Linked DNA regions of Homo sapiens. The protein of the gene in region 2 purifies or fractionates together with the protein of the main gene of each other region. This does not show direct contact. Each region holds a gene or a part of one and is shown on either strand. Other genes may lie near its edges.

Region 1 (3,650 bases), on a different chromosome or scaffold from region 2:
ACAAGATGACCCCAAATAGAAGCTACCAGTGATTTTACAATGATTTTCTGGAAATGAATTTTTTCTTAATAAATTTTTATTGAATGAATGAAATGTCCGGTAGTAATTTTTTAAAACTTTATTTTTCATGTTATAGAAATATAATATTGCTTCTAGGCATTTTGAAATATATGGAATACTAATATAGTAAAAACCTAACTAAGAAAATAGTTCCATTGCATGTGAAAATGTTGTTTTTTTTTCTGTATTTTGGGTTTTTTTGAGATAGAGTCTCACTTCATCACCCAGGCTGGAGTGCAGTGGCACAATCTTGGCTCACTGCAATCTCTGCTTTCTGGGTTCAAGTGATTCTAGTGTCTTAGTGTCTTGAGTAGCTGGAATTACAGGTGTGCACCACCACACCCGGCTAATTTTTGTATTTGTAGTAGAGATGGGGTCTCGCCATGTTGGCCAGGCTGGTCTTGAACTTCTGGCCTCAAGTGATCTGCCCACCTTGGCCTCCTGAAGTGCTAGGATTGCAGGCATGAGCCACTGCACCCAGCCTGATGTTACTTTTTATAAGTTAAAATTATGTATCAAAGCATGTCTGTTTCTTTGCTACAGCATAGGTGGCTTCTTGTTAAGAGTTGTTTTTCATGCCTTATTGCTACCTTCTAGGCTTTGAGTTTTGTTAACAGTAACTCTTTGAAGCAAATTTTGGCCAGATACACAAAGACCAAGTCTTAAACCAATATTAGACCCAAGATAATACCCCTAATGGTAGCAATCCTAAGGGCTCATTACCACTGTTTTGTTGCTACAATAAATCTTTGGGAGAAGCTTATTATTTTTTAATAATTATTTAAAGATACACAGATCTTGGCTGGGCGCGGTGGCTCACGCCTGTAATCCCAGCACTCTGGGAGGCCGAGGTGGGCGGATCACCTGAGGTCAGGAGTTCGAGACCAGCCTGACCAACATGGAGAAACCCCGTCTCTACTAAAAATACAAACTTAGCTGGGTGGGGTGGCACATGCCTGTAATCCCAGCTACTTGGGAGGCTGAGGCAGGAGAATCGCTTGAACCCAGGGGGTGGAGGTTGCAGTGAGCTGAGATCACGCACCATTGTACTCCAGCCTGGGCAACAAGAGCGAAACTCCATCTCAAAAAAAAAAAAAAATACAAATCTTAAAACAAAAAAGCTTTATTTTGATTTCCTTATTCTTTATTTTATTGTTCAGGTAAGTAGTCTGTAGTAAGAGCAGTTTAGAGATTCTGCAGTGTGTTTCCAACAACCACCAATTCTCTGATTCTACCACATGAACTGGTGTCCTGCTATTCAATGCTATTCTGACACTGACTACCCTGAATTAGTATCAGACTCCACAAGTTTAAGGACTCATTCCTACAAAATTGCCCTCACTTGAGATGCCATTTGCAAGTCCTGGGTCCCCAGGCTTACCCACATTTCTGCCTTCTGTCCAAGCTGGCTATAGATTTTGGGGATGCCAACAATGCCACTCCATGTGATCATTTGCTAGGGTGAGTCATAGAACTTAGGAAAATGCTATACTTGGGATTACAGTTTCATTATAAAGTATACAATTCAGGAACAGCCAAATGGAAGAGAGGCATATGTGGGGAGTAGCGGCAGGGCTCCAGAGCTTCCATCCCCTCTCTGGATACGCCACCTCTCCCAGCACCTTGATGTGTTCACCGAATTGGAATATTCCTTACCCTCAGTTTTTCAGATTTTTGAATTGAAGTTCCATCACTTAGGCATAATTGATTAAATCATTGACTTCTGGTGATTGAGTGTAATGTCTGTCTCCCTTCCCCTCCTAGGAGGTCAGGAAGTGGGACTGAAATTTCCAATCCTCTTATCACTTGGTTGGTTCCTCTGGAGACCAGCCCCCATTCTGAAGCTAGATAGGAGCCTTGTCATCAGTCACCTCATTAGCATAAACTCATTATAGTCAAAAGAATCTTGTTATGAATAACAAAAGACAACCCTGTCACTCAGGAAATTGGGAGGTCAGTGACAGGAACTGGGAACAAAGACCTAATATATGTTTTTATTATACCGCAGACTTAAACATCTGACATGGTAGACTGGATGGTTTGTTTCCCAAGATAAACTGAGAAACATACAACCCAGGTATCAAAAAGGAAAATTGTGGGTGTGGTGGTGTACACCTGTGGTCCCAGTTACTTGGGAGGCTGAGGCAGAAAGATTGCTTGAGCCCAAGAATTCAAGGCTGCAGTGAGCTATTATCATACCACTGTGCTTCAGCCTGGGTGACAGAGTGAGACTCTGTCTCTGAAAAAGAAAAGAAGTTATTTAAAAAGAAAATCTTGGCCAGGCGCAGTGGCTCATGCCTGTAATCCCAGCACTTTGGGAGGCTGAGGCAGGCGGATCACCTGAGGTCAGGAGTTTGAAACCAGTCTGGTCGACATGGTGAAACCCTGTCTCTATGAAAAACACAAAAAATTAGCCGGGCATGATGGTGGGCACCTGTAGTCTCAGCTACTCAGGAGGCCAAGGCAGGAGAATCACTTGAACCCAGGAGGCGGAGGAGGTTGCAGTGAGCCAAGATTGCACCACTGCACTCCATCCTGGGCAGCAGAGTGCAACTCCGTCTCAAAAAGAAAGAAAGAGGAAATCTTGTTTCTCTGGTGTATTAAAGGATTATATAACATGATCAAGAGGAACTTACCCAGGAATGCAAGGGTCAGAACCTGTCAATGTAATACACCATATTAATAGACGACAAAACCATACAGTTATCTCAGTTCACACAGAAAAAACATTTGACAAAATCCAACATTCTTTTATGATTAAAACAGTCAGCCAAACGCAGTGGCTCACACCCGTAAATCCCAGCACTTTGGGAGGCCGAGGCAAGTGGATCACCTGAGGTCAGGAGTTCGAGACCAGCCTGGCCAACATGGTGAAACCTCGTCTCTACTAAAAATACAAAAATCAGCCAGGTGTGATGGCAAACACCTGTAACCCCAGCTACTCGGGAGGCTGAGGCAGGAGAATCGCTTGAGCCCAGGAGGTGGAGGTTGCAGTAAGCCAAGATCGTGCCATTGTGCTCCAGCCTGGGCGACAGAGCAAGACTCTGTCTCAAAAAAAAGTCAACAAACTAGGAATAGCAAAGAACTTCCTTAATCCTGTAAGTGACATCTATAAAAATACCACAGCTATTATTGTACCTGTCCCCTAAGATCAAGAGCATGGCAAGAATATCTACTCTGGCCACTTCTGTTCAACATTATGCTGAGTTCCAGCCAGAGCTAAAAAAAAAAAAAAAAAGAAAGAAAGAAAAAAAGCCATCCAGAGTGAAACAACTATTTATAAATGGTAGAATATTTTATATAGAAAATCCTTAAGAACCCACAAACATATACCCAGAAAACTCTTAGAACTAATAAACAAGTTCAGCAAGGTTACAAGAAATGAGATCAACATATAAAAATCAGCTTTATTTCTGTACACTAGCAATAACCTAAAAATTACATTGAGAATAAATTTCCATTTGTAATAATATCAAAAGGCAAAAAATACTTAGGAGTAAATTTAACCAAAAGAGTGTAAGACTTGAACACAGAAAACCACAAAATATTGTTGAAAGAAATTAAAGATCTAAATAATTAGATAGCCATTA
Region 2 (3,650 bases):
GCATCCACTTGCTCTTGCTTACGTCCAAGGCCTGCCTGCCATTTTCCTGCAGCTCATCCAATCCACTATATGTGCTAGTGACACAGCCCCAAGATTTAGACCCACACAGGACCCCATGAAACACTACAAGGAGATGGAAAACCACAGTCAAACCTGACTTTGACTTGCTGTGAGAACAGGACACAGGAAGTGCTTAAATTTCCCATAGATGATGGCCCCTAAAACATACTTGGGCCGAAGCAGACCTGATAGATATCTACAGAACTCTCCACCCCAAGTCAACAGAATACACATTCTTCTTAGCGCCACATAGCACTTATTCTAAAATCGACCACATAAATGGAAGTAACACACTCCTCAGCAAATGCAAAAGAACAGAAATCATAACAGCCTCTCAGACCACAGTGCAATTAAATTAGAACTCAGGATTAAGAAACTCACTCAAAACCGCACAACTACGTGGAAACTGAACAATCTGCTCCTGAATGACTACTGGGTAAATAACGAAATTAAAGCAGAAATAATGATGTTCTTTGAAATCAATGAGAACAAAGATACAATGTACCAGAATCTCTGGGACACAGCTAAAGTAGTGTTTAGAGGGAAATGTATAGCACTAAATGCCCACAAGAGAAAGCAGGAAAGATCTAAAATCGACACCCTAACATCACAATTAAAAGGACTAGAGAAGCAAGAGCAAACACATTCAAAAGCTAGCAGAAGACAAGAAATAACTAAGATTGGAGCAGAACTGAAGGAAATAGAGACATGAAAAAACCTTCAAAAAAATCAATGAATTCAGGGGCTGGTTTTTTGAAAAGATCAACAAAATTGATAGACCACTACCTAGACTAATAAAGAAGAAAAGAGAGAAGAATCAAATAGACACAATAGAAAATGATAAAGGGGCAATCACCACTGATCCCATGGAAATACAAACTACCATCAGAGAACACTATAAACACATCTACACAAATAAACTAGAAAATCTAGAAGAAATGGATAAATTTCTGGACACATACACCCTCCCAAGACAAAACCAGGAAGAAGTCAAATCCCTGAAAAGACCAATAACAAGTTCTGAAATTGAGGCAGTAATAGCCTACCAACTAAAAAAATCCTAGACGGACTCACAGCCGAATTCTACCAGAGGTACAAAGAGGAGCTGGTACCATTCCTTCTGAAACTATTCCAAACAACAGAAAAGGAGGCCAGCATTATCCTGATTCCAAAACCTGGCAGAGACACAACAAAAAAAGAAAATTTCAGGATGAACATCGATGTGAAAATCCTCAATAAAATACTGGCAAACCGAATCCAGCAGCACATCAAAAAGCTTATCCACCATGATCAAGTCGGCTTCATCCCTGAATGCAAGGCTGGTTCAACATACGCAAATCAACAAACATAATCGATCACATAAACAGAACCAATGACAAAAACCACAATTATCTCAATAGATGCAGAAAAGGCCTTCGATAAAATTCAACACCGCTTCATGCTAAAAACTCTCAACAAACTAGGTATTGATGGAACATATCTCAAAATAATAAGAGCTATTTAAAATAAACCCATAGCCAATATCATACTGAATGGGCAAAAGCTGGAAGCATTCCCTTTGAAAACTGGCACAAGCCAGGGATGCCCTCTCTCACCACTCCTATTCAACATAGTGTTGGAAGTTCTGGCCAGGGCAATCAGGCAGGAGAAGGAAATAAAGGGTATTCAATTAGGAAGAGAGGAAGTCAAATCGTCTGTTTGTAGACAACATGATTGTATATTTAGAAAACCCCACGGTCTCAGCCCAAAAACTCCTTAAGCTGATAAACAACTTCAGCAAAGTCTCAGGATACAAAATCAATGTGCAAAAATCACAAGCATTCCTATGCACCAATAAAAGACAAACACAGAGCCAAATCATGAGTGAACTCCCATTCACAATTGCCACTAAGAGAATAAAATACCAAGGAATATAGACCAGTGGAACAGAACAGAGGCCTCAGAAATAACGCCACACATCTACAACCATCTGATCTTTGACAAACCTGACAAAAACAAGCAATGGGGAAAGGATTCCCTATTTAATAAATGGTGCTGGGAAAACTGGCTAGCCATATGCAGAAAACTGAAACTGGACCCCTTTCTTACACCTTATACAAAAATTAACTCAAGATGGATTAAAGACTTAAACGTAAGACCTAAAACCATAAAAACCCTAGAAGAAAACCTAGGCAATACCATTCAGGACATAGGCATGGGCAAGGACTTCATGGCTTAAACACCAAAAGCAACGGCAACAAAAGCCAAAATAGACAAAGGAAATCTAATTAAACTAAAGAGCTTCTGCACAGCAGAAGAAACTATCATCAGAGTGAACAGGCAACCTACAGAATGGGAGAACGTTTTTGGAATCTATCAATCTGACAAAGGTCTAATATCCAGAATCTACAAGGAACTTAAACAAATGTACAAGAAAAAAACAACCCCATCAAAAAGTGAGCAAAGGATATGAACAGACACTTTTCAAAAGAAGACATTTATGTGGCAAACAAACATATGAAAAAAAAACCCATCAATACTAGTCATTAGAGAAATGCAAATCAAAATCACAATGAGATACCATCTCACGCCAGTTAGAATGGCGATCATTAAAAAGTCAGGAAACAACAGATGCTGGAGAGGATGTGGAGAAATAGGAATGCTTTTACACTGTTGGTGGGAGTGTGAATTAGTTCAACCATTGTGAAAGACAGTGTGGCAATTCCTCAAGGATCTAGAACCAGAAATACCATTTGACCCAGCAATCCCATTGCTGGGTATATACCCAAAGGATTATAAATCATTCTACTCTAAAGACACAGGCAAATGTATGTTTACTGCAGCACTATTTACAATAGCAAAGACTTGGAACCAACCCAAATGCCCATCAATGATAGACTGGATAAAGAAAATGTTGCACATATACACAATGGAATACTATGCAGCCATGAAAAAGGATGAGTTCATGTCCTTTGCAGGGACATGGATGAAGCTGGAAACCATCATCCTCAGCAAACTAACACAGGAACAGAAAACCAAACACTACATGTTCTCACTCATAAGTGGGAGTTGAACAATGAGAACCCATGGACACAGGGAGGGGAACATCACACACACACCCCAGGGCCTGTGGGGAGTGGGAGGGGAGGGAGAGCATTAGGACAAATACCTAATGCATGCTTAAAACCTAGATGACAGGTTGATTGGTGCAGCAAACCACCATGGCACATGTATACCTATGTAACAAACCTGCACGTTCAGCACATGTATCCCAGAACTTAAAGTTAAAAATAAATACTTGGGCCGTTCAACAGTTCCCCTCCCCCACAAGCCTTTTTCCAGAACAGCATTGTTCAATAGGACCTTCTGAGATGAGGAAAGAGTTCTGTAACTTCACTGTCCCACCTGGGAGTTACTTGTGCCTACGGAGCATGCATTTATTCGTTTATTTAGAGACAGGGTCTCGATCTGTCACCCAGGCTGGAGTGCAGTGGCATAAACACAGGTCACCGCAGCATCGACCTCCCGGGCTTAAGTGATCCTCCTGCCTCCACCTCCCAGGTAGCTGGGACCACAGGCACATGGGTGCCACCACATCCTGCTTTTTTTTT
Region 3 (3,650 bases), on a different chromosome or scaffold from region 2:
GGGCAATGCTGGGGGAGGCCTGTCCACTTCCCCTCCTCTCCTCTTCCACCTCCTTTTACCTCCCCTTAACCACCCCTTCTTACCCTTGTGTTCTCTTTGCTCATTCCATCGATCTTCTTTAGAGAGACTCGGGACTGGCTTGAATGTATCCAAATAAATACACCTCCTGGAGTTCCTCAGTGAAGTCGAACTTAGCCCGGGCTGTGGCAGGAAGGTGTATGAACCTGGATGCCTCTGACCCATTGGACTTTGGTCCATAGGCAGTGAGAATGGTGTTGTTCATTCTTATGGTTTGGGGAGTGTTGTCTGACAGAGGGGCCTGCTGACACTGTCTCCTCACCCTCTGTGCAGCTTCTGGATGTGAAATTCCAAACCTGGCATCTTCTGGGCCTCCCAAGACTGATTCTTCCTGTTTCCCAACATGCAAATTGCAGGCTCCATAACTCCTCAGGAGCTATTGCTGGCAAAAGGCTATTTTCCCTCACTGAATTTTTGAACACGTTTCAGGATTGTAATGCAGAAGTTTTTATCTCTGATCCTGGGTAGCAGCATTTATTGGCACTGGGGAAGAGGGAAACAACAGAGTGGAGATGGCACACTGTGGGCCTGCTGGCTAAAATGCTTGTGGCTGAAAGCCTGCAGATGTGTTTGGTTTGGTTCGGTTCACATATTTTTTAAATCAGTCAATTTCACGTTGAGAGAAAAATTTTTTAAAAGTGTCTGGCCTAACATGAAAAATCAAAACATCTTCCAACTCAGCAATCACATTTCTAGGGCAATCGGCCATGACAGAGTGTCACTGTCTAATTTTAGGTGGGGGCGGGTGTTTTTACTACAGTCTCCACCACTCCCCATGGTCTCACACCTGGCCTGTGTTTGTGCTCCTGTGCATCTTTGACCTTGGGTGGGGAATATCTTGCATCAGGGTCATGGCTGCTGAGGCTCCTGGGCGTGTGTGCTCCAGAGATAGGCCTCCACTCTGCTCTGACTCTGCTGTTGCTTTGTATGGGGACTGCTCATGCCTTGGGTACGAATCGCTCACTCCTAAAGAGGAGCAGGTGAGAATGTGGGACATCAGAGAGTGCCTGGGTTTGTTTCTTCTCTGAATTTATTAGCCTGAAGAAAGAATTAGTGAAACCTGAAGTTTGGTGGTAGGGTGGGGATAGAAACTGTTGAAGGCCTTGATTTCTATAAATAGTAACCTCCATGTATGTTTGACAGGTGAAAGGAAAGCAAGCCAGGATGGATATTTACGACACTCAAACCTTGGGGGTTGTGGTCTTTGGAGGATTCATGGTTGTTTCTGCCATTGGCATCTTCCTGGTGTCGACTTTCTCCATGAAGGAAACGTCATATGAAGAAGCCCTAGCCAACCAGCGCAAGGAGATGGCGAAAACTCACCACCAGAAAGTCGAGAAGAAAAAGAAGGAGAAAACAGTGGAGAAGAAAGGAAAGACCAAGAAAAAGGAAGAGAAACCTAATGGGAAGATACCTGATCATGATCCAGCCCCCAATGTGACTGTCCTCCTTCGAGAACCAGTGCGGGCTCCTGCTGTGGCTGTGGCTCCAACCCCAGTGCAGCCCCCCATTATCGTTGCTCCTGTCGCCACAGTTCCAGCCATGCCCCAGGAGAAGCTGGCCTCCTCCCCCAAGGACAAAAAGAAGAAGGAGAAAAAAGTGGCAAAAGTGGAACCAGCTGTCAGCTCTGTAGTGAATTCCATCCAGGTTCTCACTTCGAAGGCTGCCATCTTGGAAACTGCTCCCAAGGAGGTGCCGATGGTGGTGGTGCCCCCAGTGGGTGCCAAGGGCAACACACCAGCCACTGGCACTACTCAGGGCAAAAAGGCGGAGGGGACTCAGAATCAAAGCAAAAAGGCTGAAGGAGCCCCAAACCAGGGCAGAAAGGCAGAGGGAACCCCAAACCAGGGCAAAAAGACAGAGGGAACCCCAAACCAAGGGAAAAAGGCAGAGGGAACCCCAAACCAAGGCAAAAAGGCAGAAGGAACCCCAAACCAAGGCAAAAAGGCGGAGGGGGCCCAGAACCAGGGTAAAAAGGTAGATACAACCCCAAACCAGGGGAAAAAGGTGGAGGGGGCCCCAACCCAGGGCAGAAAGGCCGAGGGGGCTCAGAACCAGGCCAAAAAGGTAGAAGGGGCCCAGAACCAGGGCAAAAAGGCAGAGGGGGCCCAGAATCAGGGCAAAAAGGGAGAGGGGGCCCAGAACCAGGGCAAGAAGGCCGAGGGGGCCCAGAATCAGGGCAAGAAGGCCGAGGGGGCCCAGAATCAGGGCAAGAAGGCCGAGGGGGCCCAGAATCAGGGCAAGAAGGCCGAGGGGGCCCAGAATCAGGGCAAGAAGGCTGAGGGGGCTCAGAACCAGGGCAAAAAGGCCGAGGGGGCTCAGAACCAGGGCAAAAAAGTAGAAGGGGCCCAGAACCAGGGCAAGAAGGCTGAGGGTGCCCAGAACCAGGGCAAAAAGGCCGAGGGGGCCCAGAATCAGGGCAAAAAGGCCGAGGGGGCCCAGAACCAGGGCAAGAAGGCCGAGGGGGCCCAGAACCAGGGCAAGAAGGCCGAGGGGGCCCAGAACCAGGGCAAGAAGGCCGAGGGGGCCCAGAACCAGGGCAAGAAGGCCGAGGGTGCTCAGAACCAGGGCAAAAAAGTAGAAGGGGCCCAGAACCAGGGCAAGAAGGCTGAGGGGGCCCAGAACCAGGGCAAGAAGGCCGAGGGGGCTCAGAACCAGGGCAAAAAGGCCGAGGGAGCCCAGAACCAGGGCCAAAAAGGAGAGGGAGCCCAGAATCAGGGTAAAAAGACAGAAGGGGCTCAGGGCAAAAAGGCAGAAAGGAGTCCCAACCAAGGCAAAAAAGGAGAGGGAGCTCCCATCCAGGGCAAAAAGGCAGATTCGGTTGCTAATCAGGGCACAAAGGTAGAGGGTATTACAAACCAGGGGAAAAAAGCAGAAGGGTCCCCCAGTGAAGGCAAAAAGGCAGAAGGGTCCCCCAACCAAGGCAAAAAGGCAGACGCAGCTGCCAATCAGGGTAAAAAGACAGAGTCAGCTTCTGTCCAGGGCAGAAATACAGATGTGGCCCAGAGCCCAGAGGCACCAAAGCAAGAGGCTCCTGCCAAGAAGAAGTCTGGTTCAAAGAAAAAAGGTGAGCCTGGTAAGTAACTGATTTCTTTATGAACTTAGAAGGAAAGGCTGTCTTTAAATGACTTATGGATTCTCTCGGGGAGTGCCACCTGTATCAGTCAGCTATTGTCATAATAAGGCTGCGTAACAAACATTCAAAAAAAAATTCAGTGGCCTTCAACAGCAGTCATTTATTGTTGCTCATGCTTCTGGAGGTTGGCAGATGTGAGCTTTCTCGGTTGGTGGCTCTGCCTCAATCTGGTTTTAACTGGGTTGGTGACTCTTTGCTACAGGTTGAGCTCAGGTCAGTTCCATGTGTGGTCCTTCTGGCGCCCTCCAGGGCAGAGGCCCTTCATAGTTACAACAGAGGCACAAAAGGGCATTTCAAGTCAGCATTTCATTGACCAGATCAAGTGATGTGTCTGAGCCTGAGTCAAGGGGCAGGGAGTCCACTGTGTCCAGGGAGAAGGGACTGCAAGGTGATGTGAGAAAGGAGAGGTGAGGAGTGAGCAACAGGTCCGTGTCTT

The links.
Region 1: the proteins of MAP3K15 (region 2) and RAB10 fractionate together in Homo sapiens (co-fractionation; one large-scale study listed by BioGRID). This does not show direct contact.
Region 3: the proteins of MAP3K15 (region 2) and RRBP1 purify together in Homo sapiens (affinity purification with mass spectrometry, with the first as the bait; one large-scale study listed by BioGRID). This does not show direct contact.

What each region holds. Positions count from the first base shown.
Region 1 is NC_000002.12:26,110,463-26,114,112, forward strand, and holds part of RAB10 (ras-related protein Rab-10), read left to right. Parts: intron 1-3,650. UniProt on the Homo sapiens protein: The small GTPases Rab are key regulators of intracellular membrane trafficking, from the formation of transport vesicles to their fusion with membranes.
Region 2 is NC_000023.11:19,509,002-19,512,651, forward strand, and holds part of MAP3K15 (mitogen-activated protein kinase kinase kinase 15), read right to left. Parts: intron 1-3,650. UniProt on the Homo sapiens protein: Serine/threonine kinase which acts as a component of the MAP kinase signal transduction pathway. Once activated, acts as an upstream activator of the p38 MAPK signal transduction cascade through the phosphorylation and activation of several MAP kinase kinases.
Region 3 is NC_000020.11:17,658,100-17,661,749, reverse strand, and holds part of RRBP1 (ribosome-binding protein 1), read left to right. Parts: intron 1-1,221; 5' UTR 1,222-1,242; coding exon 1,243-3,154; intron 3,155-3,650. UniProt on the Homo sapiens protein: Acts as a ribosome receptor and mediates interaction between the ribosome and the endoplasmic reticulum membrane.